Homo sapiens: one gene and its partners. The protein of the gene in region 4 interacts with the protein of the main gene of each other region in a pairwise test. Each region holds a gene or a part of one and is shown on either strand. Other genes may lie near its edges.

Evidence for each region.
Region 1: the proteins of ZC2HC1C (region 4) and SORBS3 interact in binary tests that used the Homo sapiens proteins (3 or more experiments, as listed by UniProt).
Region 2: the proteins of ZC2HC1C (region 4) and RABGEF1 interact in binary tests that used the Homo sapiens proteins (3 or more experiments, as listed by UniProt).
Region 3: the proteins of ZC2HC1C (region 4) and UBASH3A interact in binary tests that used the Homo sapiens proteins (3 or more experiments, as listed by UniProt).

What each region holds. Positions count from the first base shown.
Region 1 is NC_000008.11:22,561,927-22,568,949, forward strand, and holds part of SORBS3 (vinexin), read left to right. Parts: coding exon 1-5; intron 6-2,060; coding exon 2,061-2,151; intron 2,152-2,356; coding exon 2,357-2,443; intron 2,444-2,541; coding exon 2,542-2,595; intron 2,596-2,882; exon of another isoform or gene 2,883-2,947; intron 2,948-3,080; exon of another isoform or gene 3,081-3,147; intron 3,148-3,341; coding exon 3,342-3,428; intron 3,429-3,802; exon of another isoform or gene 3,803-3,899; coding exon 3,900-3,946; intron 3,947-4,062; exon of another isoform or gene 4,063-4,317; intron 4,318-4,418; coding exon 4,419-4,558; intron 4,559-4,734; coding exon 4,735-4,787; intron 4,788-4,895; coding exon 4,896-4,942; intron 4,943-5,134; coding exon 5,135-5,249; intron 5,250-7,023. UniProt on the Homo sapiens protein: Vinexin alpha isoform promotes up-regulation of actin stress fiber formation. Vinexin beta isoform plays a role in cell spreading and enhances the activation of JNK/SAPK in response to EGF stimulation by using its third SH3 domain.
Region 2 is NC_000007.14:66,736,310-66,743,741, reverse strand, and holds the start of RABGEF1 (rab5 GDP/GTP exchange factor), read right to left. Parts: upstream 3,010-7,432; 5' UTR 2,950-3,009; intron 1-2,949. UniProt on the Homo sapiens protein: Rab effector protein acting as linker between gamma-adaptin, RAB4A or RAB5A. Involved in endocytic membrane fusion and membrane trafficking of recycling endosomes. Stimulates nucleotide exchange on RAB5A. Can act as a ubiquitin ligase.
Region 3 is NC_000021.9:42,441,893-42,448,198, forward strand, and holds the end of UBASH3A (ubiquitin-associated and SH3 domain-containing protein A), read left to right. Parts: intron 1-559; coding exon 560-704; intron 705-1,261; coding exon of another isoform or gene 1,262-1,310; exon of another isoform or gene 1,311-1,413; intron 1,414-1,419; coding exon 1,420-1,526; intron 1,527-2,641; coding exon 2,642-2,751; coding exon of another isoform or gene 2,752-2,941; intron 2,942-5,164; coding exon 5,165-5,302; 3' UTR 5,303-5,792; downstream 5,793-6,306. UniProt on the Homo sapiens protein: Interferes with CBL-mediated down-regulation and degradation of receptor-type tyrosine kinases. Promotes accumulation of activated target receptors, such as T-cell receptors, EGFR and PDGFRB, on the cell surface.
Region 4 is NC_000014.9:75,065,015-75,072,640, forward strand, and holds the start of ZC2HC1C (zinc finger C2HC domain-containing protein 1C), read left to right. Parts: upstream 1-4,626; 5' UTR 4,627-4,735; exon of another isoform or gene 4,736-4,934; intron 4,935-5,540; 5' UTR 5,541-5,559; coding exon 5,560-6,897; intron 6,898-7,626. Other genes in the region: ACYP1 (acylphosphatase-1 isoform c precursor), read right to left, coding at 4,196-4,277.

The DNA of each region.
Region 1 (7,023 bases), on a different chromosome or scaffold from region 4:
AGTGGGTGAGCACAGTGGGGCGGGGCCGAGGGCTGCGGAGGGGCGCGGCCCGCGAGACACCATGGGACGGGCGCCCCCTCGTGACCACAGCCGGCACAGCCTCGGAGCCCAGCCAGGAGTGGGGTCTCACTTCCGTGTCCGTCTGGGCTCTGTCCCATCTCTGGGTCTCCACCACCCCCATAGACTCTCTTCCCTACAGGGTCAAGGGGGGAAGGGTAGGCAAGAGTGGACCTGGCACCCGCTCCTGGCCAGGAACGCCTGTGATGCGTTTGTGGTCAGCAGCAGGAACTCTTTGCCCCAAAGATCCCACCGGTCTTATGAGACCGGGAGTGGGGCGGCCAGGACAGCCGTGGACAGAACTGTTGAGGGGAACTTGGACCTGGCGCTGTCCACTTTGAAACCTGAGAGAAAACAAGGGATATGGAAGAACCCAAGTTCCAGCCTGATAGCACAGAGAGAGGAGCCCCTTGGAGGGATAAGGATGACATTCCTTTCCTCTGTGCAAACCACAGGCTCCGCCCGGCTGCTGGGGCCCTGGCGGGGTCAGCACCACCGTGGGAATCAGGATCTTTGCTCTCAGAGTTAAATCCTTGAGTTTCTTATTCCCTTGCAGGGAAGGACTCGTCTCATTAGCATGGCTGAAACTGGCCCGTAGCTCTGGGCATCACCGATAAGGTTCAGAGGCAAAGGGCTCAAGATTTGGACGCTGAGTTCTGGGTTTAAGCCTGTGCACTGCCACTAGCCATGTGACTGTGGGTACCTCACTCAGTCTGAGCCTCTGTGTCCCCATCTTTTAAGTGGTAATGCCCAGAGGGTTCAGTGTGATCATGTGTGTATCATGCATCATGTTTTGCACATAGCAAGCCTGCACAAACATTAGTAATATACAGGCTTAATTATGATTACAAGGCTGGGTGTGGTGGCTCACGCCTGTAATCCCAGCACTTTTGGAGGCTGAGGCGGGCGGATCACGAGGTCAGGAGATCGAGACCATCCTGGCTAACATGGTGAAACCCCGTCTCTACTAAAAACAATACAAAAAATTAGCCGGGCGCGGTGGCGGGTGCCTGTAGTCCCATCTACTCGGGAGGCTGAGGTAGGAGAATGGCATGAACCCAGGAGGCGGAGCTTGCAGTGAGCCGGGATTGCGCCACTGCACTCCAGCCTGGGCGACAGAGCGAGACTCCGTATCAAAAAAAAAAAAAATTATGATTACTGCTTCCTTAGGTTAGGAATGACATTCTCACAGTCACTTTTATTATTACCAAAATCAGAATGGAGTCATTATTACAGCCAACAAATCCCAACCCTTGGTCAGACGTTGTATTATTTGATAAGCCTGATGCAGTGGTTCCTCTCAGTGGAAACTTTCAAACAGAGGCTGGAACATTCCATGTAAGCCAGCCAGCAAGGGGCCCTGGAGGGGAGCTAAGGCAGATGTGTCCATGCTGTACTGCAGTGGCTGGGGTGGTCTCACAGACAGAGTCACTGAATCCAGCACCCTCATGGAACTAGGCCCAGGGAGCAGAAATAACTTGGCCAGAGCTGCAGGGCAGAGCTGCCTCTGGCTTTCCTTGCCCATGGGTGTACGATCACTCAGCCACAGCACCCAGAAAGACCAGCTTCTTCAAAGCTGCACAGACGCACATAGCCACAGTCATGGGGCCAGACCAAACACACATACAGGACACTTTAGCAAAAAGGCCCACAGGAGAGGGTCGGGCCACACCTGGAGCAAATATGTGTGTGAGGCCTTCTCCCGGGCACCTCATATATGTTCTCTCACCAAATCATTTCTATATTACAGGTTCTGAGCCTGAGGCTCTGAGGGATCAGTAACTTGTTCAAAGGTTACACATCCACTAAACAGTAGAGCTGGAATTTAAGCTTGGAGCTCACACACTTCCACAGTTTAATCTTGCTTCCAGAGTAACGGCAGGGCAGTCAGAGGCAGAGTAGACCCCACAGCAGGGACAAGGGCAGGGTGAGAGGGCTGTGTGCTGGCTTCTGCCTCAGTCTCCCTAAAAGGAAGCTGAAGAGATGTCCTTCCCTTTCTTTAGAAGAAGCTGGGACCACTCTGAAGAGTTACCTAGAAGCACCTTCAACTACAGACCTGGAGCATTCTCCACTGTGCTGCAGCCCTCAAATCAGGTAGCCCACCCAGCATAGTCCCTGGTCAGCCCCAGCTGTATGCCGTATGGCCAAGACCCTATGCCACGATGTCCTTTCAGCTTGAATCCCTTGGAGGACACCGTGGGCCCAGGGGAAGGGCAGGGGCCTGCAAGCCTGCATTTTGAGCCTGGCCAGTGTCCCAGTAGCCCTCTTCACAAGCTGACACCCACCCACCTCCACGCAGGTGCTCAGACGCCGGGAAAAAGTAGACAATGTCTGGACGGAAGAGTCCTGGAACCAGTTTCTGCAGGAACTAGAGACTGGGCAGAGGGTGAGTGCTGGCTGGCTCTCGGGGTGTGCACGCACCCTCAGCTGATACATTTTGGAAAGTGAGTTCACCTGCTCTGACACACCCTTTCTACCCTTCAGCCCAAGAAACCGCTGGTGGACGACCCTGGTGAGAAGCCCTCCCAGCCCATTGAGGTGAGTGCTGCAGGGTGCTGGGGACAGCAGCCTGATAAACCAGGGAGATTAGGGTTTTGGTGGCCCCAGTAACCATGGGCATAGGCCACGAACTAAGAGCTCTCTCTCCAGTCCCACATGGTTTATTTCTGTAATGCCAGCACTCAGGACAGTGGCTGGCATACAGGAGGCGCTCAGTAAACATGTGTTAAATAAATATGTGTTGGCCAAAGCAGGAGCAGAAAAGGGAGTGGTCAGTGCGCACTGGGATTATCAGGAAATATTCTTGGAGGTGGAGCTGGACCCTTGAGAAGCTCCGAGGGCCTGATTCGGCGAAGACCCATAGCAGAGGCTGGCAGGAAGCAGCGTGGGGGTGGGGGCTCCGGTCCCTGGGGTGGCGGGGGAACCTGGATGGGCACAGTGAAGCCAGGCCTTGGAGGGCGGGAGAAGATGGGAGAGGAAATGGGGAACCCCATTGGTGCTGTAACAGAGACACAACTTGGCAGAAACTGGCAGGACTGCGGAATCGCGGGATCAGGAAGCGCGTAGGCACTCCCGGGGCGTGCTGGGCAGGTGAGAGGCCGTGGCGGGGATGCCCTCTTGGCACCCTGGGCCACACCTCCTGGCAGGAGCCCGGCCCGTGCGCTGAGGCCTGCCCTTACGCCGGCCCGGTGCGCTGGCCTTGCTTTTCACAGTCGATCTTTGACCGCTGCCTCCCACCCCCACGGTGCGCTGCCCCTCACTGCCCAGCCTCTCCCCGCCCCCAGGTGCTGCTGGAGAGAGAGCTGGCCGAGCTGAGCGCCGAGCTGGACAAGGACCTGCGGGCAATTGAGACCCGACTGCCGTCCCCCAAGGTACCAGCCCCCAGGGTTCACCCGCGGGGCACGCCGGCGACCGCAGGGTCGGGGCGAGCCGGGAGCCTCGGCGGCTGGGCTGGGCGGAGGACGGGCAGCCGAGGTCCGGCCTCCAGCGGCGCGCACCGGCCTCGGGCCCTCCTGGGCGCTGGCGGGCTCGCTCCTCCATAAATAAAATACAGGGCGTCGACTTTCGCAAGTGACCCCGAGGAGCCTTTCTAAGCGGACTCCACGTCAGCCCGACGACCGGGCGCCCGCCCCGTCCGGCCCCCGGGCCCCAGCCTCGGGGACCCCCGCCCCTTCCCCTAGTTCCCGCCCCGCTCCCGGGATCGGCCGCGCGGGCGCCTCTAGGACCCCGCGTCCCGCCCGCTCTCCTCCCCTCCCGAGCCGCGAACTTTTCCGGAGGCGGCGGCCTCGGCTGCCGCTGGGTCCCGGGGTCGCGGGCCCTGATTGCGCCGTTTCCCCGCGCAGAGCTCGCCGGCGCCCCGACGGGCCCCGGAGCAGCGGCCCCCGGCCGGGTGAGTGGGAGACGCGGGAGGAGGAAGGGGGCTGTCCCAGGCCGGGCGGGAGGGAACGTGGCGCGGCCGGGCGGGGCGGACGGGGGCGATCGCGGGGCCCAGCCGGGGGAGGAAGGAACCGCAGAGCCGTGTCCGGGAGGGACCGCAGCGCCACTCTCTGCGGGGCGCCGTTCCCGCGCCACCGAGGGCAGCTAACTCCTAGCAGAGGACCGGGGTCGCGGCCGCCGGGGGCGCAGCGCGGTTAGGGCGGCCCCGCCACGGCCCAGGCACTCCCGCTGGGCCCTGCCGGGCCTCACCCTTCCCCGCGCAGCGACTCGGGAAGTAGGACATCCTGTGGAGAGCCCAGGACCCGGGAGACGCCCTGGGAGGAGGTGGCAGGGATGGGGGCGATGGGGGGTCAGAGCGGTCTAGGGGTGACCAGGGTGGGGTGCGGAGCCCCAGGCTGGAGGCTCAGTCTCTGTGCCCCGTGCAGCCCGGCCTCAGCCTGGAGCTCCAGCTACCCACATGCACCTTACCTGGGTTCCGCCCGGTCCCTGAGTCCCCACAAAATGGCTGATGGAGGAAGCCCCTTCCTAGGTCGGAGGGACTTTGTCTACCCTTCCTCAACCCGAGGTAAGGACCCAGCCCTGCTCTCTTTCTCACGGAGATGCCCACCCACCAGGCATGTTGGTGCCCCAGGGGTGGCAGGTCACAGAGCCCCTTGCTTCTGCCAGTGCCTGCCCTAGGTGGGGGTGCAACCCCATCCCCCAGGTATGGCCTCCCCAAGCTGAGGTTGTGCTTCTCCACAGACCCTAGTGCCTCTAACGGAGGGGGCAGCCCAGCCAGGAGGGAAGAGAAGAAGGTAAGGAGGGGACCAGGTGTGGGGGACCTGGAGTGGTCCCAAGGCTGCCATCCTGGATCTGCCACCCGCCCAACTGAGAGAGCCCACTCTGTCCTCTCCCCTGCCTAGAGAAAGGCCGCCAGGCTCAAGTTTGACTTCCAGGCGCAGTCCCCCAAGTAAGCGCCCTCCTCCCCCTCCCCTTCCACCCAAGGCAATCTCTGCCATCCCAGAGGGGGATGGGGAGGGGGACTGGGCTGCAGTGGGCATCCCCAAGGGGTGAGAGAACTGGGGTGTGTTGGGCAGGGTCTGAAGGGAAGGAGGCTTGGGAAGGCTTCAGCTTACCCTGCGGTCCTCGTCCCCACCTGCAGGGAGCTGACTCTGCAGAAGGGTGACATTGTCTACATCCACAAGGAGGTGGACAAGAACTGGCTGGAGGGAGAGCACCACGGCCGCCTGGGCATCTTCCCTGCTAATTATGTGGAGGTGAGCAGGAGAGACAAGAGCAAGTGGGGCTGGGCTGGGAGGGCGCAGGGGTTGGGAGAGACTTAGTGCAAACCTTGGGTTTCCTAAAGCAAAAAACTGTGAGGGGCTGGGGCGTGTCTCGGAACTGTCCTTGGCCCCCACAGGGCTTGGCCCAATGCTGTGCATGACCCCAGGAAATGTTTGCTAAATGAGGGTGGAGCCTAGCCCAGGGGAGGACCCAGCAGCCAGCTCCTCAACCATTCGTGTCCCAGACTTTCACCATTCAGATCCGTCTTTCTAAAGCTGTCTTTGGAAATCATCCTAATGGCAACTAGCAAGAGTGGGAAGTGTGCGACAGTTTATAAATCACGTATACACGCATAACCTCTTTCAGGTGTATTACCGCCCTGGTTCCTCTCACTGCCCAGAGAGTGATAGATTATCTCTGTTTTACAGATGGGGATGCCAAGGTTCAGTGAAAAGTTATTAAGTAAAAGATCCAGAATCTGAATCCAGGTCTTTTGATTCCAGAGACAGGTTCTGGGCTTGACAGATAAAGGGCGATAGGTTATCTTTGCTATTTGTGACTTTTAAAATATGTCAAGTTATCCAAATTACTGGCATAAAGGTGTTCATTATAGTCTCTTACTATCCTTTTCATGTCAGTAAAATATGTAGTGATGTCTTCTCTTTCTTTTTTTTTTTTTTGGAGAGACAGAGTCTTGCTCTGCTGTCCAGGCTGGAGTGCAGTGGCGGGATCTTGGTGCACTGCAACCTCCACCTCCCTGGTTCAAGGGATTCTCCTGCCCCAGCTTCCTAAGTAGCTGGGACTACAGGAATGCGCCACCACGCCCAGATAATTTTTGTAATTTTTTAGTAGAGATGAGGTTTCACTATACATTGGCCTGGCTGGTCTCGAACTCCTGACCTCAGGTGATCCACCCGCCTCAGCCTCCCAAAGTGCTTGGGTTACAAGCGTGAGCCACTGTGCCCGGCTGATATGTTCTCTTTCATTCCTGATGTTGGCAATTTGCGTCTTCTCTTATTCTGTCTAGAGCTTTATTAATTTACTTGATCTTTGGATTTTATTCATGTTTTTCTCTCGTTTTTGTTTTCGATTTCATTGAGTTCTGCTTCTTATTTGCTTATTGTTGCTTGCTTTTGGTTTAATTTGTTATTTTTCTAAGTTTCTTAGGATGAAAGTTTAGACTATTGATTTGAAACATTTTTCCCTAGAATGCTGCTTTAACTGCATCTCACACATTTTGATTTTTCATCAACTCTTGACTGTTTTCTCATCTCGTCTGTGACTTCCTCTTTGACCCATGGGTTGGGTTGTTGTTTAATTCAGGCTCTTGTTTTGATAGGTATCATTAGGCCTCCCTTGCTTACACGATGATCCACTTGGTCCTGAAATTTCACAAAGTATATACAGTATTTCACTCCGCCAGTCGTTTCTATCTTTGTGTGAAATGGTTTATTGGCTGCTTGATTTTTATGGGCAGAGTGAAGCAAAGAGAACGTGAGGATTCTGGGCTCCGGCTGGGGTAGATGGGGAGGAAGAACCGAGACGCTGGAACCCAGGGACACCCGGTTCTCAGCAGTGAGAAAAGGGTGAATGCTCAGTTTTGGAACAGTTCCCCAAGTTCCCCTTGCTGCTTGGAACGCCTCATTTTCTTCTGTGGTCCAACTTAAACTCTCTAATTGGACTGGCTTCCATCTTTTCTCTTGGAGTTCTTCACTTCAGTAATGCCCACTCCATATATCCCTATGGAAAATTCTTCTTCCAGGGAGC
Region 2 (7,432 bases), on a different chromosome or scaffold from region 4:
ATCACGAGGTCAGGAGATTGAGACCATCCTGGCTGACACAGTGAAACCACATCTCTACTAAAAATAGAAAAAATTAGCCAGGCATGGTGGCGGGCATCTGTAGTCCCAGCTATTCAGGAGGCTGAGGCAGGAGAATGGCGTGAACCCAGGAGGGGGAGCTTGCAGTGAGCCGAGATCGCGCCACTGCACTCCAGCCTGGGCGACAGAGCCAGATTCCGTATCAAAAAAAGAAAAAAAAATTTAGCCAGGCAAGCTAAATTAGTAGGTGGCAGGCCTGTGGTCCCAGTTACTTGGGAGGCTGAGACAAGAGGATAGCTTAAGCATGGGTGGTGGAGGCTACAGTGAGCTGTGTTCCTGCCACTGCATTCCAGCCTGGGAGACAGGGAGAGAGAGAGAGCCTTTTTTTTTTTTTTAAATTTTTTTCTTTTTTTTGAGACGAGGTCTCGCTCTGTCGCCCAGGCTGGAGTGCATTGGTACAATCTTGGCTCACCACAACCTCCTAGAATTGCTAGGTTCAAGCAATTCTCCTACCTCAGCCTCCTGAGTAGCTAGCATTACGGCAGGCGCCATCACACCAAGCTAATTTTAGTGTTTTTAGTAGAGATGGGGTTTCACCATGTTGCTCAGGCTGGTCTCAAACTCCTGACCTCGTGATCCGCCCGCCTCGGCCTCCCAAAGTGCTGGGATTACAGGCGTGAGCCACCGCGCCTGGCCAGAGAGACCCATTTTAACCACACAAGGACCCAGCTAAAAAACTTCCCCTGGTTCTGTCACCATCAGAGGAAGCCTGAGCTCCTACATCTCTGTCCTGCACTTTTTCACTTTAGTAACGACCCTCCAGGCTCGGTAGCTGATGCCTGTAATTTCAGCACTTGGGACGCTTGAGGCAGGAAGATTGCTTGAGTGCAGGAGTTTGAGATCAGCCAGGGCAACACAGCAAGACAACATCTTTACAAAATATTTAAAAATCAGCTGGGTGTGGTGGCACGCATCTGCAGTCTTAGCTACTCGGGAGGCTGAGGTGGGAGGATCACTTCAGCACAGGCAGTTGAGACTTCAGTGACTCGTGATCGTGTCACTGTACTCCAGCCTGGGTGACAAAGTGAGACCCTCTCTCTCAATAAATAAATTAATAGGCACCTCCTTGTAGTTACTGGCCTCCTCTCCTTTGATTCCCCCCTCTCCCTCACTCCACCCTGTTAGTCTGAATGTTAGTCATTCTTCAAGACACATGCAGAAAGTATTCCCTGATCCCTTCCAGGCTCCACACCCAACAGCATGGCCTAAATGCCCGGCTCCTTCCTCGGTGCTCCATCTTAGCTCACATTCCTTACCACACTGTTTTGAAAGTATCTTGACTGTCCCTTCTCCTCAACTGGCTAACTTCTAGAGAGCAGAAACATGACTGCTTGGAAGGTCATTAAAAATTCAAATCCTGAACATTTCTTAATCCTGCGGATATGAATCAGTGACTCTTAAAAGCAAAATGTTATTTATCATTAAATATTAACAATATAATCACATTTTCTTGCATCTCTGGCAAGTTTCTTGGTACAACAATTTTAAGGAACAGACTCTTAGTTTTTTTTTTGAGATAGAGTCTAGCTCTGTCGCCCAGGCTGGAGTGCAGTGGCACGATTTCGGCTCACTGCAACCTCCGCCTCCCGGGTTCATGCCATTCTCCTGCCTCAGCCTCCAGAGTAGCTGGGACTACAGGTGCCCGCCACGATGCCCGGCAAATTTTCTTTTTCTTTTTTTTTTTTATTTGTAGTAGAGACGGGGTTTCACCGTGTTAGGGAGGATGGTCTCAAGCTCCTGACGTCATGATCCGCCTGCCTTGGCCTTCCAAATGCTGGGATTACAGACGTGAGCCACCGCACCCGGCCGGAACACACTCTTTAACAGCAGTTAAAGCCGCGCAATGGCTCACGCCTATAATCCCAACACTCTGGGAGGCCGAGGCGGGAGGATCACTTAAGGCCAGGAGTTTCACACCTGCCTGGGCAACACTGTGAGATCCCATGTCGAAAAAAATAATAAATAAAAACAAAGCAGTTCTAGGTTTAGAGGGGGGAAAGCAGCTCTCCAGGCCAAAAACCAACTCCCAAGGTGCTCCGGTAAACTCGTCCTGGGAAAATTTCCTACCTAATCTCAAAGGCAAAACGAGCCCACGGGCGCCCACGACACATTTCCCAACCGCAAGGATTGGTCACCCGCGCTGAGACACCGCCAGCTGCCTATGACCTAGCCTCCAAAGCGGCAGAGTCCCTCCCTCTCTCTCCCTAAACTGCCGTGATGGGCATCCCTCGGCTCTCCTCCCAGACGGTTCGGAAGCAGGGACTTCTGCTCCTAACCCCGGCCCCGCAGCCTCGCCCTCAGCCACGGGGTGGAAGTCAGGACCACAGGCTTCAAATCCCCTCCCAACTCCGGGACACTTCTGCCCCCTAGGGTGACGTGGGATCAAGTCCCCGCGCCCCTGCCGCGGCCGGGGGCTGTGGTCTGGGTCCGAGCGTCCCATACCAGCGCTTTCCGGGGAGGTTGTGGGAGGGGCCCCGTGCGACCACAGACGCTGCTTCGGAGCCAGCGGCCTGGACGGAAGGTGGGAGCCGGGGCGAGGGGAGCCGCCGGAGAGGGAGGCGGCCAGGAAATGCTCCGCGTCAGGCCGTCGGGGCTCGGCTGGCGCTGGAGATCCCGGCAACTAGCGTCTGGGACGGAGAGGCCGCACTCTGAGGATTAAGGGAGCCGAGGGCGGCCTGGAACGGGGAAGGCGGCGCTGACGGAGACGGAATGTGGGACGAAGGACAGCGGGAGGCACCGACGCGCAACTGCCCCAGCCGCGCGGATGGCACGGACCGACCGCCCTGCCACCCCCAGCCCGAGACGCCCCGCCGCCCCGCTCCTGTAGCTGAGAGCCGAGCAGCTCTCAGCCCCAGTCCGTCCGCTCCGTACCTCGCCCGCGTCTCCGCCGGCGTCCAAACCACCGCTCGCCCGCTTCGCCCGGGTAGGTCTGGGCTCCGCGGCCAGCTCCCGCCTCACACCCACCCTCCTGCTCGCCCCGCCCCCGGCACCGCCAGCGAACGCACGTTACGCGCGGCGCGTAAACGTCACTTCCGGGGCCTTTGACTCTGGACGGGAGGAAGTGCGAGTGGATCCAAAGGGTCGAGCGGAGTGGGGTACCGCCCTGACGCCCAAGAGCAAATGGAAGAGGGCGGCCTCCGGGGTAAAGGTGGGGCGCTGGGGAGCCCCGGAGAAACCGGCGTTTCCTAGTCTGTCGCTCAGTCCCTGCTTCCGGCTTCCGACGCGCAACAGCTGGAGGGCGACGCTGGCTCCGCGGCGACTCCTGGGGCTGCGGCCGCGGTGGTAGCGCGAATGGGAGGTGGAGCGGAGCTACTGCGCCGAGGGACGCTTCAGAAACTCTGTTTCAGTCCTTCGCGGATCCTAGGATGTGACAGGTGTTCGAGTTAAAAGGTCTTAAGGCGATCGGTTGATCCAAAAGCAGCTGAATCTTTAGGAGGCCCAGGCAGGAGGATCGCTTGAGTCCAGGAGTTCGAGACCAGCCTGGGCCACAGAGCAAGGTCACCATCTCTACAAAAGAAATTTTACAAATCAGCCGGACATGATGGCGGGCACCTGTGGTCCCAACTACCAGGGAGGCTGAGGTGGGAGGATCGCTTGATAGCCCAGGAAGTTGACGGTGCAGAGATCCCTCCACTGAACTCCAGGCCGGGTGACAGCAGAGCGAGATCCTGTCTCAAAAAAAACATAACCGACATCCAGAAGTGAAATAAATTAGCCAGTGTCACAAAGTATTAATGGTTGAGTCACAAATTGAATCCTGTTTACCTGATTCTTTACGTGATTCCCATGTAAGGAATGTTAAAAACAGTAAATACTAATTCCTCTGCGTCCTGAATGCCATGTATGGCGTAACGTGCAGTCACAGCAAGAAAAAAAAGAAAATACTATGCTGTGGCTGTGAGATAGACCTGGGTTAAAATCCCAGCTTTGCTAATTGTCGCTGTAGTGTTCTTGGACAGGTTGCGTAATTTTTCAGTCTATTTTTTTTTTTTTTTTTTTTTTTTTTGAGACTCTCACTCTGTCGCCCACACTGGAGTTCAGTCGTGCGATCTCGGCTTACTGCAACCTCCGCCTCCTAGGTTCAAGCGATTCTCCCACCTCAGCCACCCAAGTAGCTGGAATTACAGGCACCCGCCACCACGCCCAGCTCATATTTTTTTTTTTGTATTTTTAGTCGAGACAGGGTTTCACCATGTTGGCCAGGCTGGTTTTGAATCCTGACCTCAAGTGATCCGCCCACCTTGGCTTCCCAAAGTGCTAGGATTATAGGTGTGAGCTACTGCGCCCGGCCCGAGTTTCTCAGTCTTTATTCATTATTGGTAAAGTAGGGATTAACTGATTCGTTTCTCAGATTCTTCCTAAGTGCCTAATGTGTGCTACGCTGAGGGTACAACAGAGTATAAAACAAAAGTAAGGCCAGGCGCAGTGGCTCACGCCTGTAATCCTAGCACTTTGGGAAGCCGAGGCGGGCAGATCACCTGAGGTCGGGAGTTCAAGACCAGCCTGACCAACATGGAGAAACCCTGTCTCTACTAAAAATACAAAATTAGCCAGGCATGGTGGCACATGCCTGCAATCCCAGCAACTTGGGAGGCTGAGGCAGGAGAATCACTTGAGCCCGGGAAGCGGAGGTTGCAGTGAGCTGAGATTGCGCCATTGCACTCCAGCTTGGGCAACGAGTGAAACTCCTCCTCAAAAAACAAAACAAAACAAAAAAACACAAAGTACCTGTGCTGAGGAGGTGGAGGAGGGAATAAACAATAATTATTTACAGTAGTACCTTGGATGGTGGTAATTGCTATTACCAAAAGACAGAATAACATTTACTTTAAAGCTCTTAACTGACTTTTGTGATTACAGAATCAGGCAACACACCATTCTATAAACCATTCTGTGAAACAGAATGAGTGTTTCTTTTTTTTTTTTTTTTTTGAGTTAGAGTCTCACTCTGTTGCCCAGGCTGGAGCACAGTGGTGCAATCTCGGCGCACTCCAGCCTCCAACTCCCTGGCTCAAGTGATCCTTCTGCCTCCACCTCCCTAGTAGCTGGGATGATAGGTGTGTGCCAGCACACCCAGCTAGTTTTTGGGGTTTTTTTGTAGAGACAAGGTTTTGCCATGTCGCCCTGGCTGGTCTCGAACTCCTGGACTCAAGCAATCTGCCCACCCCGGCCTCCAAAAGTGCTGGGATTACAGGCATGAGCCTAGACCCCTGGGCCCAGAATGAGTGTTCAATGGGCTGAGCAGAAGAGGTTGGTGCTAAAGACAGAAAAGGCCTGAGGAAAGCAGTAACAAAAACTGAATATCATTTCAAAGTTTCTTTGTGAAGGTTAAGCTAGAGAGGACTGGCCGGGCATGGTGGCTCACGCCTGTAATCCCAGCACTTTGGGAGGCCAAGGCAGGCTGATCACCTGAGGTCAGGAGTTTGAGACCAGCCTGGCCAACATGGTGAAACGCCACCTCTACTAAAAATACAAAAATTAGCCAGGTGGTGGCCTGTACCTGTAATCCCAGCTACTCTGGAGGCCGAGGTGATAGGATCACATGAGCCTGGCAGGTTGAGGCTGCAGTGAGCAGTGATCATGCCACTACACTCCAGCCTGGTTGACAGAGCAAGACCCTGTCTCAAAAAAAAAAAAAAACAAAAAAAACAAAAAACACAACCAAGAAGCTTGCAGCTTTAAAATAGACCGGAGCGGCCTCATGAGGTGACCTGAATAAAAGATGAGGGAGCCAGCTGTGCTGCTATGCAAATATCTGGGCAAGAATGTTCTAGGCACCGAGCAGCAAGAGGGAAGACCCTCCTGACACCGCTAACCTGTTTAGCAGTAGCAGGCTGGGGCACGGTGGTAGGATCATGGCTCACTGCAGACTCCAACTCCTAGGCTCAACCAATCCTCCCACCTCAGGCTCACAAGTAGCTGTGACTACAGGCAAGTGCCACCATGCCTGGCTGCTATTTTGCTGTTGTTGAGAATGTGTTTTTCCACGTTTTAGTGTTAAGTGACAGGAACAACAGAGGTTTTTTAAAAAAGACTTTCCTTGGCAAAATTAAAGGAGAACAGCACTATATCAGTCTTTCATCTTTTTTTTAATTGTTTTAAACTACTGAAAGAAGTCTGGTAACCACTGCTACACACCATGCCTCCTTCCCATGGCAAGGCTGAGCCCCGAAATCCGGATCTAAAGGTACTCTCCATATTGTTTTAGACTGCCCCCCCCTACCCAGTCTCGTATTGCGTAGGATAGCCAGGTGTGGTGGCACACGCCTGTAGTCCCAGCTATTCAGGAGGCTGAGGGGAGAAGACTACTTGAGCCAGGAGATTAAGGATGTAGTGAGCCATGATGGCCCTGGTGAAGAACAGCCACTGCATTCCACCCTGGGCAATAGAGCAAGACCCTATCTCCAAAAAAACAGCCCCCAAGAAACAAAAAAACACCTAAAAATTAAATAAATACTGTAATACCAGCATTTTGGGAGGTCAAGGTGGGAGGATTGCCTAAAGCCAGGAGCTTGAGACCAGTCTCGGCAACACAGCAAGATTCTCTCTCTCTCTCTCTCTCTCTCTCTCGCTCTCGCTCTCTCTCTCTCACTCTCTCTCTCTCTCTCTCTCCCCCCTCATATATATATAATGATGATAATATCACCCACATCAAGTAAGAGCAGTGGAAGCCCCAGTGCATCAGCACATATATATATTTGTGTGCGTGTGTGTGTACGTGTGTGTGTCTGTATACGTAGGTGTCTGTGCATGTGTGTATAATTAGATAAATAAAAATAAAACTTTGTTTTGTTTTGTTTTTTGAGATGGAGTCTCGCTCTGTCGCCCTGGCTGGAGTGCAGTGGCGCAAACTTGGCTCACTGCAACTTCTGCCTCCTGGGTTCAAGCTATTCTCCTACCTCAGCTTCCTGAGTAGCTGGGATTACAGGCGCAAGCCACCACACCTGGCTAATTTTTGTATTTTTAGTAGAGATGGGGTTTCACCATGTTGTAGTGAGCTGGTCTCAAACTCGTGGCCTCAAGTGATCCACCTGCCTCACCCTCATCACCTGCCAAGTCCTACCCATTCTAACCCTGATAGCTCTTAAATCAGGTCTTTCCACCTCAACCTCATTATCACTGCTCTAGAGCTCAAGCCTTCAGTGTCCTTTCACTTCCTGAATTTACTGTCTTAGTGCTCTTGCTCACATTGTATTCTTTGCCCAAAATGCTCTTACCACTCCCCTTCTTCTTCTGTCTATAGGGCAAGTTAAATGGCCCCATATAGTGGTATAGGTTGTTCACTGCACTGAGACTATCCATCACCACCTCTACCTCATATGTGAAAGGACTTTTGCTAAAGGAACATTCCTGT
Region 3 (6,306 bases), on a different chromosome or scaffold from region 4:
ACTTTATGGCTCTTCCTTTAATCAAAATATAAAATGCCTGGGAAATGTGAGTTGCAGGGAGTCAGAATATTCCAGAAGATGGCTCCTTCCATTCTTCACCTCTTGCCCCGTCTGTGTAAGTGTTTATCAGGAAAGTGCCTCATGAGGCCAACATTCTTCATGATGGGTCACATCTTGTCCATTGATCATTGGATCTGCCATGTTGGAGGATGCAGCCGGTGGGCTGGTTTCACGGTGGAGCTGTGCTGGGTGATCAGGTGAGCCCCAGCCTAAGCCTGCTGCCTGGGACACTCACCAGCTCCTGGAAGACTCTGGCCCTTCCTGGCACACAGGGGGCCATCACTCCTCTGATACCTTCCCACTGCTCGTCAGTTTTGACTTCAGAAATAGCACAGCTATGCCTAATCACAGAACGGTATTTGCCAAGAAGAAAATCACACTGTTTAAAAGGCATGATTTAGACGTGTGTGTGACGGTCTGAGATCTAAAAGGAGACTTATTTATGCAAAGTCAGGGTGGATGTTGAGGATGATAAACACTTGTATTCTGTTGAATCCAGAACTCAAACTGGAGAAAAAAATCAAGATACGAGTGGAACCTGGAATCTTTGAATGGACAAAATGGGAAGCTGGCAAAACCACCCCAACCCTCATGAGCCTGGAAGAGCTGAAAGAGGCAAATTTCAACATTGACACTGATTACAGGTATGCTGTTCTAAAGTTCTCTGCCACTGGGGCTTTTCCAGTTATTGTTAAAGAAAAATTTCATGACACTGTTAAAATGGTAAGAAAGACTTTATTCAAGAGGGACCACTGCAGTGGGGTTTTGCAGCAGGGGAGAGAGGTGGGGCTCAACTCCTAATACAAGGAAAAGAGGGGAGTTATAGCCACAGAGCAGGGTGGGGGTCAGTGGATGGAAAATTCCTGAGAAGGTGGGTCATTCTTGCTAAACTGACCTAAATGGAGACTCTTGCTGAAGGCAGGCCAAGGTGATCAGACATCACCTGGGGGGTGGTAGAGGATAAGGAACTTGATCAGATGTCGAAGGTAGGAGGTTCTTGCTAAACTCACTCTGCAAGAACAGACACAGAAGCCCAAGGGTCAAGACCTCATTGAGAAGAAGGTTCAGAGGAGCTGGACTGGAGTTTAGTCAAGGAGAGAGTCTTTGTCATTCTCCACCCATGTCTGACTCTGCCATCACAGAGCCCTCCTGGTGTTGAGTAAGAATGTGTGCTGGAGATTGACTGTCAGTGCTTTGCCAGTTTTCAGCACAAAACTGGAGCCTGCCTGTTGACCATGAGCCTGCCTTGAGGCAGAGCCATCCTGGAAGAACGTTCTCCTTCCCCAGCTAACTGCAGCTGAGCCTTCCTAATCCCTACGAAAGTGCCAGGGCAGCAGCCTCTCCTTCTCATCCTTCCAGGCCCGCGTTTCCCCTGTCCGCCCTCATGCCGGCCGAGAGCTACCAGGAGTACATGGACAGGTGCACGGCGAGCATGGTGCAAATCGTCAACACCTGTCCACAGGACAGTAAGTGCCTCACCATCCTCAGTATGAACAGCCCCTGGGGCTTGGGGAATTATCTCTGAGATGGAAATTGGCCAATTTTCTGAACCTATGAATGCCCCTACTTCTCCTGCCTGCCCCCGCCCCCATTCTCCAGCAACAAAGTTTTCATCACTGCTGCTGCTGCTGCAGTAACCGGGTGCACAGACACACACTCCCCTGCCGCCCAGGCCCTGGGACCCCCCATCCTGGGACTGAGTGCTGATGGGAGGGGAATGATCTCTGAGATGGAAATTGGCCGATTTTCTGAACCTATGAATGCCCCCACTTCCCCTGCCCGCCCCCCACCATTCTCCAGCAACAAAGTTTTCATCACTGCTGCTGCTGGTGCAGTAACCGGGTGCACAGACACACACTCCCCTGCCGCCCAGGCCCTGGAACCCCCCATCCTGGGACTGAATGCTGATGGGACCCAGGCCAGCAGGGTCACACAATCCACCCATGTCCAAGGGATTTGAGTCAGCTTCCTGGGAAACAAAAGAGACAGAGAGAGAAAGAACAACCAACTTCCAGGTGGCGCCCCCTTCCCTGACCCATCACACGGGTCTCCTAACCCTCCCGTGTTGCTTTGTCCTGGATGAAGCATGCACAGAAGCGCTGACTTCCCACGCCTTCCCCTGAGCTGGCAGGGACAAGCGTGTCTCCTGAGGGAGACCCACTCGGCCTGTGGTCTCCAGGTGTTCTTATCTAAAGCAGGAGTCGTAGCAGGCTCGTGTGACAAAATAACCGGCTGACCTTTCTAAAGTGAATCAGGTCTGGCTTGGGCGTCAGCCACCGCTACATCCCAGTCTGTGGCTGACGGGGCCCAGGCAGCCAGCGACCACAGGGGGTGGCTCAGCTCACTTCCTAGGCCTCCCTGAGGCTGGTGGGCAGCTGCTGCGTGCAGAGGAATCCATGAGCGAGGGTGGGACGCAGGCATCACTGAGCGGTTACCAGCCACACTACTTCTAGCCCGGGGGTCTCGCCAGGCTTCGGGGCACTCTGAGATAGCTCTGCCCCCCACCACTTTGGGGACCCCAGTCTAATAAAAGGTGCTCTCTGGGGCTGCTTTGACCTGGAGGTGTTCTTGTTTTCCACAGCGGGTGTCATCCTAATTGTGAGTCACGGCTCCACTCTGGACTCCTGCACGCGGCCACTGCTCGGGCTGCCGCCCCGGGAATGTGGGGATTTTGCCCAACTCGTGAGAAAGGTACGCGCCCACTCTTGGCTCTTTGGGCCACAAAATCAAGCATCCCGAAGACACAGGTTTATCTCATCCACTTCTCGGAATGAAAACAAGTGTCCGGCTGACCCAGGGCCACCAGGATCCACGTGCCCCCGGAGACTGTGCCCACCGGCTCTTATGCGAAGGGTGACTTCGGGCTGGGGCTGGTGGATAGGTCAGTCAACCTCATCATCATTGGCCACTTGCCAACTTTTTACCAGTCAGCTCATGCCATGACCCCTTGCAGCTCTCGTAGAAAAACAGACGGTCCAGGAAGGAGTAAGCAGTTTAGATGAGGAGGGAAGAAACGACTGTGGGACTCGATTCTGGCCTCTTCTGGGGACCTGGGGCAGGGCGGCTGATGGATGAAAAGGAGCCCCTTGATCCTCTTGCCCTTGGAGTCACCCAGCATGGAAGAAGCTTGAGCTGGTTGTAGCTGCCAGAGTGCTCAGGCTCTGGCAAGGGCCTTGTGAATGACAAACAGAGGATAACGCACACGTGACATCTTGGACAACCTTGATTATCACTCAGCAAAGCCAGAGGGTGATGTCCAGTCCATGGGTGAATTGAGGCAGGCAAACTCAGGAGTGCAGATCCCACCCCAGTCCCAGCCCTTCCCTGCAGATCTACTCAAGGCTGGACTCACCACAGTCCTGACCTTTTTATGAAATTCATCAGTCCACTGGTCAGTGCCCAGGCAGCACGTGCAGCATAGACAATGCCTGTCATCGGAGGTGCTTGAGGCCCTGACCTGGTTTCTTCACATAGCACTGCCACAGGACCACACTGGCCACAGCTTGTTTGCCATAAGTTGTGGGCAGCAGTGGGGGTTGCTGAGTCCCCCCAAGAGGTCAGGGGCTTCAGAGGAGCCCAACTCCCGGGCCCAGCCCAGTGACACCAGCCAGGTGCCTGCAGGAGGGCTTAGCTCTCTAGCTACGCCTGCCTCAGCAGCCAGATGAGAGGTTACGCACATGAAGAGCATGCCTGCCGTGGGTCATTGTCACTCAGCAATTAGGCATCAGACACCCGAATCTCCCTTTCTTGCTCCATTTTCCTCTGCACCTGAGTAGAAACATGCTTCCCCTGCAAAATGTCTCCAGGGTGGTGTGTCCCAATTATGATCCAGACATTTCCGAGCGCCCTGGATTCTTGAGCCACCAGGTGAGCATTGTCCAAATAGGGCAGCTCAACCCCCCTGGGCCACACTGGTAGAGGTCTGCATGGATTTTCCTGGGGACTGTCCGGGGCAGCCCCGGCACCACCTGCTCCCAAAATGTTGCTCTTGCTTCTGCAAATGGGTCTCCCACACATGCGCTCTGATGCATTCCTCCTGTCCCTGCCCCGCTTCCCACAGTCCCATATACACATACCAAGCCTCCAGCCCCAGGCGCTCCTGGGGGCCCACGTAACCAAGGGTGGCAGCACTGCACACACCAGCTGCTGACAGTTCCTCAAACCCATGAGCCTTTGTGGCCAAAGCTCCACCCACTCCTTGGACCCTTCACCCCCTTCCATAGATGCCAATCTTGAACTTCCAAACTCCTGGACTTTCTTATGCTGGTCACGTGGCGTTCACCCTGCCCCTACCCCAAAATAAGCTGGACTTGCTCATGCATATCAGAAAATACAAAGGGGGGGCTCTACCAAATGATGGGCCCCCAAATCAGGGCAGCTGGAAAGGGAGCACTCAGGACCCTCCCCGACCAGCCCATCACCGCCCCTCGCCCACAGCCTCTGCAAGCGTGAGGAAAGAATCACCCTAGGGTCAACACCAGCCTCACTCAGACCCCCCTGCCAGTTGGCATTTTTGTAAATTTCATCTGCCTGAGGAATTTCTAGACATTAGAAAGAGGAAGGAAAGAAAGAAAAGAAAAGACAAAAACAAAAAAGGCTTCACCACAAAGCTCTGTTCTCACACATCCATTTCACAGATGAAGGGATGGAGGTCTAAAGGTTCACTTTGTGCTTTTCTTTTGGGTCTGAAAACTCAATGTCTGTGTCTTTTTGTGATGCTGAATATGAGAATATGAGTCACTCCTTAAGTGGTGGATGGCAATCTCCACCTCAGCCTGCAGACCTTTGTGGTGGGGGCTGTTCTACTCATTGTAGGATGTACCACCTTGTAGGACCTCTACCTGCTAGGTGTCGGCAGCACCTCCATCCTCAGTTGTGACAATCAGAAATGTCTCCGGAATTACCCAGTGTCCCCTGGCTAGGGGACATCCCCCACGGGGCACCGCCAGGGCAGATGTTGGTGCCATTCAATGGTGGCAGTGCCAGCCTGGGCAGTCGCAGACCCTCCAAAGTAGAGGTGTGCCTGACAGTTGGCTTTGGAGCTAGTCTGAAATTGATGGACTTGCTATAAGATATTAACAAGTGATTTAAAACTCTGTTCCAGATCCCTTCCCTGGGCATGTGCTTCTGTGAAGAAAATAAAGAGGAAGGAAAATGGGAGTTGGTGAACCCACCGGTGAAGACCCTGACCCACGGGGCGAACGCAGCATTTAACTGGAGGAACTGGATCTCAGGCAACTGAGAGCCACGGTGATGTTGTCATAACCTCAGAGTGGAGAGGCAGAAACCATGTGCAGAGGCTGGGAGATGCTGCTGTTTCCAGAGGCGTCTTAGTCTCACCCAATGTGATTTGTAGAAGCACGAGACGCACTTTTATATCCCGGAATATTTCCCTCCGGCTTTCGCCTTTGTAACTCCCATCTGTGGACCCATCGTCCACCAGCCCAGCTGCGGGGAGCACAGGGCAGGTGGCTGGGTGAGGATGCCGCCCTGCAGCATGTACACCGAGTGTCTGCAGCTGGGGACACAACTGCCCGGGACTCTAACTTCCAGGAATTAAAGACTCACCACACACGAAGGATCTAACCACTTCATTTTCCATGGTCTAATCATTAAATTCCCAATCGTTTTTTCTTTTTCTGGGTCCATCACTCTTTAGCCATATCCACATGGGCTAAAACAGGTGTAATAGTCAATAAAATGGTCCCAGAAAACCATCGACCAGGTCAAAACTGGGTTGCTGCTCCGTGCTGTCAACATTCATGTTACTATGTCTCTGTGGTTGCTGTAACCAATGACCACAAACCTGGGGGTCATGGAAAGAACACAAACTTTACACACACACACACACACACACACACACAGGCACATACACACATGCACATATGCATACAAAGACAGGCACACACGAGCATGCACACACACAAACACGTGCACATACACATGCGCACACACATGCACACGCACATGCACACACACGCAGGTACACAAGCATGCAAACACACATACACATACAAACGCGTGCATGCATACATGCACACATGAGCACACAAACACATGCACACACTTGCACACATGCACACAAAGGCATACACATGCAATGCACACACACAAACACACATGCACACACAGGCACACACACGCTCACATGCACACACACACACGCTGACTCTCCTACGGTTCTGGAGGTTGGCATTTTCTCAGCAGGCTATGTTTCTTCTGGAGCCTCCAGGGGAGGATCCTTGC
Region 4 (7,626 bases):
AAATAACTCATGGCTCCAGAATTACAGTTGAGTCAGTCAATCTAAGCCAAATGGCCAAACTACACGAATTTATTTTGGGAACAGGGAATTGTCAAGGGGGATGTGGATGAAGATGGTTAAAATTAGAGTTGATGTGTAAACATTTGAATCCAGCTACCCTTATGATTCATGTGTGTGAAGGAAAACTGTGGTGTTTATTGATCCTCTGTGGATTGACTGTATACATTACACCTCTTCATAACGTAAAGACTCCTTATGTGAATATGCCAGGTTGGCAGACTTGACAATGAGATATGGGTTTGTGACAGTAGGCACGGAAATTCATCATTCTGCTAGTTCCCCGCTAGAGTGAGGATCCATATCCTAGAGAATCATACAACCTTAGTGCTGAGAGGTGGGGGGTTGGTGGTGAACAAGCTGGATTGAATGTTGTACTTGGCAATATTTGAAAATAACTCTAAATAGAGTATCTTGCTAATGGTATTTCTTTCTCTAAAATTCATTTAAAAAATAGTTTATAGAATTCAAAACTTACTGAGTGTCTAATACGAATGGGGCACTCTAGGATATACAAAGATGAATGATATAAAATCTTTGCCCTCAAAGAGTTTTTAATTTAGTGTAGGGGCACAAATGCATGCAAATAATGACAATAAAATATATGGCATGATAATTTAATTCCATGAAAATCCATTGAGAGCTCATCAGGAACCAGCCCTGTGCTATAACAAGGACAGAAAATATTACAAAGGAGCAAACAAATTAATTCTGATTGGGAAGACAGGGAAAGAGTTCTTGGAGGAAACAGCATTTAATCCAAGGTCACACAACCAGTAAGTGATGGAGCTGGGATTTGGTTCCAGAGTCAATCCCCATGAATGCTATGCTCTACCAGCTCCCAGTATGTGGAGCTTAGAGTAATGTAGTACCATGGAGATGAAGAAGTACAAGTAGCCAGTTGTGGCTAGACCAGGGGTTTGCTACCCTGCTTGTGCATCAGGATCTTTGGGGAAGCTTTAAAAATGTTAATCCTCAGGCCTCACCCCTAGATATTGCTTTCCAAGTAGTCTTAACACACAGTCAGGGATGAGACTCACTGGGTTGAACTCTGTGGCTTATTAAGGGGAGGCAAAACTGAAAAGGTAGGCTGGACCTAATCTGGGAGGTAGAGATGCCATGCTAAATTATGCATTTCAACTTTATTCTATAGGTAAAGAAGAAGCTACTGGGGAGGGAAATGGTAGGATCAGAAGCATTTAGTAATTAGCTTGATTTAATCACTGCACAATGCATACATTATCAAAACATCACTTTGTACACTGCAAATATAGATATAATTTTTGCTTGTCAATTATATTTTAATAAAGCTGGGGGGGGGTGGAGAAATATTTAGACTGATTATTTTGCCTGCAGCATGAAGGATGGGTTTGAAGAGCAGATATTGAAGGCAAGAGCAGAAGTTAGGAGGGCTATGCCATCCCAAGGAGAAGTGAGGAAAAACTCACCTGGGGCAGCAGAAATGTAAAGGAAGAGTCATATATGAGAGACATTGCAGAAGTAAACTCAATAGGCCAGGCGTGATGGCTCACGTTTGTAATCCCAGCACTTTGGGAGGCTAAGGCAGGTGGATCACCTGAGGTCAGGAGTTTGAGACTGATGAAACCCCATCTCTACTAAAAATACAGAAATTAGTTGGGCGTGGTGGTGCACACCTGTACTTCCAGCTACTAGGGAGGCCAAGGCAGGAGGATTGCTTGAACCTGAGAGGCAGAGGTTGCAGTGAGCTGAGATCGCGCCACTCCACCCCCATCTGGATGACAGAGCAAGACTGTCTCAAAGAAAAAAAGGAAGAAAACTCAATAAAACTTGTGATTAGTTAGAAGGAAGAGGCAACAAAGAGGGAAGCATGGAAGACTGATGCTGTGAGCATGCAAGGGCACACTGGAGAGGCAGATTTGAGAATGGGAGAGGATCAGAGTTTATGTTGTCTTACAGAATTTGAGGTTCCTAAGGAACAATCTTGTGGAGGTGTCAAATGGGCAGTCCTGAAATTTGAGTCTGTAACTAATGAGAAAGACTAAAGCTAAGCTGGCTGTCATTTAAACACAGGTGAAACCTGAAATTTCAGCATTTGGTTGAAATCATTAAAGAAGAGAATGTCTGGAACTACACACACACACACACACACACACACACACACACACACACACACATATATATGAAATAAGAGGGCTTCAGAAAACACTTAAATTTAGGGAGTAGATGGGGAAAAGATAAATGCCAGACTTGGAAGAAGATGGAGCAAGAACATGAAAGAAGAAACCAAGAGGGCACAGGAGAACTGAGAAGAGCATTCTAAGTGGGTGGATAATCAGTAATGTCACATGAGTAGGCTGAAAAAATGAAGCTTTTGTCTTTGGAAAGTCACTGGTAGCTTTGTAGTTAAATAAAGTGGAGAAAGTAGAAGACAGGCCACAATGAACTGGACAATGACGGGGAGATGAGGATATGTGGGCAGCAAATGTGGAGATTTCCATTAAGAAGTCTTGTGGAGAAGAGGAGAAATGAATGGGACTGTAATATGAAAGTTAGGTCAAGGGAAGTAAGGTTTGTTTTGCAGGGGAAAGTTGAGTATATGTTAAAACCAAAGAGACAGAGTTTATGGAGAGGTATAACTTGAAGTTAACAAGATGCAGACAGGGTGCCGTCTCTCACGTCTATAATCTCAGTACTTTGTGAGACTGAGGCGGGAGGATCTCTTTTGACTCCAGGGGTTTGAGACCAGCCTGGGTAACAAAGGGAGACCCTGTCTCTACAGAAAAAAAAAAAAGAAGTAAGCTGGGTGTGGGGGGCACACACCTGTAGTCCCAGCTACTCGGGAGGCTGAGGTGGGAGGATCACTTGAGCTGTGGAAGTTGAGGCTCCAGTGAGCAGTGATTGTGCCACTGCACTTCAGCCTGGGCAACAGAGTGAGGCCCTGTCTCAAAAACAAAGGCCAGGCCCGGTGGCTCATGCTTGTAATCCCAGCACTTTGGGAGGCTGAGACAGGCGGATCACCTGGGGTCAGGAGTTCAAGACCAGCCTGGCCAACATGGTGAAACTCTGTCTCTACTAAAAATACAAAAAATTAGCCAGGTGTAGTGGCAGACGCCTGTAATCTCAGCTACTCGGGAGGCTGAGGCAGGAGAATCACTTGAACCCAGGAGGCAGAGGTGGCAGTGAGCTAAGAGTGCGCCACTGCACTTCAGCCTGGGCAACAAAACAGGGCGAGATTCCGTCTCAAAAAACAAAAAACAAACAACTTTAAAAAACCCCAAAAACCAACAAAACAGAAAACAAAACAAAACAAAAATGCAGGGGTAAAGTGATGGAGTCAATTCCCGGAGGGTACTGAAAAGGACTAATTCAAGAGAACTCAATGGAACTCAATGGAAAGTCGCCCTTCTTTCTCATAGAGGAGAGGGAAGGAGAGAGAGAGAGGAGAGAGGGAGACAGACAGAGACAGAAACAGAGGAGAGAGGGAGAGGAGGAAGAAGAGAGAGAGACAGAGAGAGAGAGAAAGAGAAAAAGAAAGCCGGTAAATTCTGCTGAGGGAAGCTGTGGGAGTTGATAATCGGGACCCTGAGTGGAGTGGGAAACGTCTGGAGCTGCATATACGGAGAGGCGGTAGAGTCAACTAGGGATGAAAACGAGGAATTAAAAAAAAAAAAAAGACTGATCTGGAGGGTCCACCAAGGAATTTCCTTGTAACGGGTAACAGCTGTAATATGACATGTTGAAGTATTAACACTGATGACTGCTGTCTACATTATTTTCCATGTGCATGAATTGAGTAGTTACAGGGAAAAAGCGAACTGCCTGTTCCAAACGGCTTACACAGATGAACTGAAGCGAAGAAGAAAAATGAACTTTCTTTTGATGTCAACAAGATAGAGTATCATTTACTGTTGAAGCCAGGTTATACTGATTATTTTCGATCTGGTAGTTAACTTTATCATCATTACATTTGGCTGAGTCATTCCTGGGCCCTAAGTAGAGACGGCTAGAATTACCACGTGAGTAAAACATTATAATATCAAAATAATTAGATTGGCCACAAAAACTACCACGGAAAGATACTGCGTAGCAAAAACGTTGGCAGCAAGTTCCAAAGCCTTGGCGAGGACAAGCAAGGAGCGCGCGCGTGCAGCCATACCTGGGGCCCGCCCAGCGCAGCCGAGCGCGCGGAGAAAGGCCAGCAGCAGCCCCGCTCCCGCCAGGCGGGCGGACGCCGGCATCCTGCGGCGGAAGCACGCGGAGGCACAGCCAGGGCCTCCGCCCTTTGCCAGACAAGGGCACACCCCAAGGTCTGGGAGCGTCGTTCTCAGAAAAGTACAAGTTCTTCTTTGAAGGAGCTCCAGAAAAGCCTCTCCCGCCCCTCCCCGGCTCCCCAAGGGCAGGGCTGGACCGAGCTGCAGAGTTGGCCGGACACTGACTGGGTCAAGTGACCTTGGGCTGACCGCACCCCCACCCCCGGTCGCCCCGGGTCGCTGGTGCACTGCGCCTGCGCGCGTCTCCCCGAGGAGTTCGCGGCGAGGGGCGGAGCTTGGCGCGCCAGTGCCTCGGTTTCCAGGCACCGGGAATAACAGAAGCCAGCTGAGAGCGCCTGCGCGGCTGTCGGTTGATGGGGAGGTCAGGTCTGGGAAACTAGGCCCTGGGGTTTTCCCTGAGCAGGAGCGGTGCCCGAGGGCCTCAGGTACGCAGAAGGGCGGGGAGACATGGGATCAGCACCTCCACCTCCTAAGGGACCGAAGGGCAGGAGAGCGAGAGGACTTGTCCCCAGAGGTGGAGTCCGAAGTGGGGGCGCCCCAGTTGACCCTTCGGGACAAAACGTGACTTCAGCCTTAAGGATCTAAAACCGGCCGCGGTCAGGTCAGGTGGCCCTCAACGCTCAGGTTACAAAACTTTTACAGTCTGCGCCACGGGGACTCCTGGGATGAGGGTTTGACAGCCAGGCACCTGCTCCAGGCCCTAGCAGCTTTTGTGCTCTTTGGAATCAAGCACGGTTCCAGCAGGAGGGAAGCCCTGAGAGTTCTTTGTGCCAGTCACTACCTCTGGGCCACAGCTTTCTCACCTGTAAAATGGTGAGGCTGGACTCTGCGGGAACCCTTCAGTTTACAGGGGAAGAAACGGGGGCCAGCAAGGGAGAAGTCGCTTGTCCTGTTACAGGCCTAGAACCTGACTTTCTAGTCAGGTGCTCTTTCCACCTACTATAGAGTATACTGTGCGTGGCAGAGGCTGGTGCTGGAGGAAAGGAAAGCTAGGTGGCAGGAACACCTGTAGCACCTTCGTTTTTCTACCCTCAGGGCCTAACACAGTGTCTTGTGCATAATCACTCACCAAATGGTTTTTGAAGGGAAGCTTTGGCAGGTCCAGCAACACTGTCCCCAGAAAAGTTTAAGGGAATGTGGGCAGGGCAAATGTAGAAATAGTTTGCTTTAGCAGCCGAGAGTGAACCTCAGACAAACTCTTCCCGTGTATCTGGTTTAAATCTCCCGTAGGCGTCAGTCCAGGCCCTGAATGGCTGGTCTCCAGCGGTTGGCGTCACATCTGCCTGTGGGCGTTATGCTCCCACATAATACAACGGAAGCTCCAGGGCCCCACTCAGCCAAGCAAGACTCTTACGAACAAGGTGACTCTTCCCAGCAGTCCTTGAAGGGGCACCTGAGGAACAATTTCCAGAAGCAGCTTTTGAGCAACAAAGAGTTGATTCTGGATAAAGTCTATACTCACCCCAAATGGAACACCCAAACAAAAGCCCGGAGCTACTCCTATCCCCACTGTACTGGAATCAGCCAGCAAGATCCAGAAAGTGATTCCCAGGGCCAAGGAAATGGTTTGTTTTACTCGTCAGGCCCTCAATCCTGGTATCCCAAAGCCAATAACCAGGACTTTATCCCCTTTACAAAGAAACGAGTTGGAGTGGACCGGGCGTTCCCATTGAAACCCATGGTCCACAGGAAGTCGTGCAGTACAGGTGAGGCTGGCACTGATGGGGACCATAATGTCTACCCAAGGCCCCCTGAGCCGAGAGAGTTTTCATCTAGGAACTTTGGTGTGAGGAACCAGGGCAACTTTTCTGTGGTTGGTACTGTTCTTGCTGCCACGCAGGCGGAGAAGGCCGTGGCAAACTTTGACAGGACGGAGTGGGTGCAGATCCGAAGACTAGAAGCTGCAGGGGAGAGCTTAGAGGAGGAAATCCGAAGAAAGCAGATTCTCCTGAGGGGAAAGCTGAAGAAGACAGAGGAGGAACTCAGAAGGATCCAGACGCAAAAGGAACAGGCCAAGGAAAATGAAAACGGAGAGCTACAGAAAATTATACTCCCCAGGAGCAGAGTTAAAGGTAATAAAAGCAACACCATGTACAAACCTATCTTCTCCCCAGAATTTGAGTTTGAGGAAGAATTTAGTAGAGACAGGAGAGAGGATGAAACTTGGGGACGGTCTCAACAAAATTCAGGTCCATTCCAGTTCTCTGATTATAGAATCCAGAGGCTCAAAAGGGAAAGGCTGGTAGCAAGCAATAATAAAATTCGAGACCCAGTCTCAGAGCCATCGGTGGAGAAATTCTCCCCGCCTTCAGAAACACCAGTCGGTGCTTTGCAGGGATCCGCCAGAAATTCCAGCCTGTCCATGGCACCAGACTCCTCAGGTTCCAGCGGCTCCATTGAAGAGCCACAGCTGGGTGAGTGCAGCCACTGTGGGCGCAAATTCCTCTCGTTCAGGCTGGAGAGACACTCCAACATCTGCAGCAGGATGCGGGGTTCCAAGAGGAAAGTGTTTGACTCCTCCAGGGCCCGGGCTAAGGGCACAGAACTAGAGCAGTACTTGAACTGGAAGGGGCCAGCTTCAGCCAAGGTAACAAGAGCCTTATGGATGTGACTTGGTGTGGTGATCATTGTAGGGGTCTGTTTTGTCATCATCAGTTTTCTTTAGGGAAAATTCATGTGTCATGTAGGAAGAATTGACGTCTAGAATTAACATTTCTTGATTACTACTGTATGCCAGCATTGTGACGGGAGCTTTTCATGTGATCTCCACATTATCTCTCATTGTATCAGTTCAAAAATCAAGACTTGGACAGGCTAAGTAACTTGCTTGAGGTCACAAACAGCTTTAAGTGGCAGAGTCGGCATATAAATCTTGGTTGGAATGACTAAAAAATCTAGACATAGAATTTGTGTCCTTTGGATTATAAAAGTAATAAAAGTTTACTGTAGAAAATTTAAAAGACACAAAAAATCTAAAGAAAAAAATGCAGCCTTTTGTCACCTGGAGAGAACTCCTCACTCTTTGCAATGTATTCTGCCACTTCCCAAGACTAGGATCTGTGACCATTCCTTTAACTATTCACTCTTTTAAGGTTAGCTCAGTGTTAACATAGCTTCTTAGTAAATAGATGAAACACAATTAAGTTTGGAATTCTTTTTCTGCCCATTTAGAATGTAAACACCTTGAAGGTAAAAAGGACTTTCTTTCTGGTTATCTTACAAACCATGCCCTTGCCAATTATTTCTCACTTTAGAAAAACCAGGTTGGAAAAAGTAAGGGTTTCGTGACACTTACATGATAAATTTAGGTGAACTT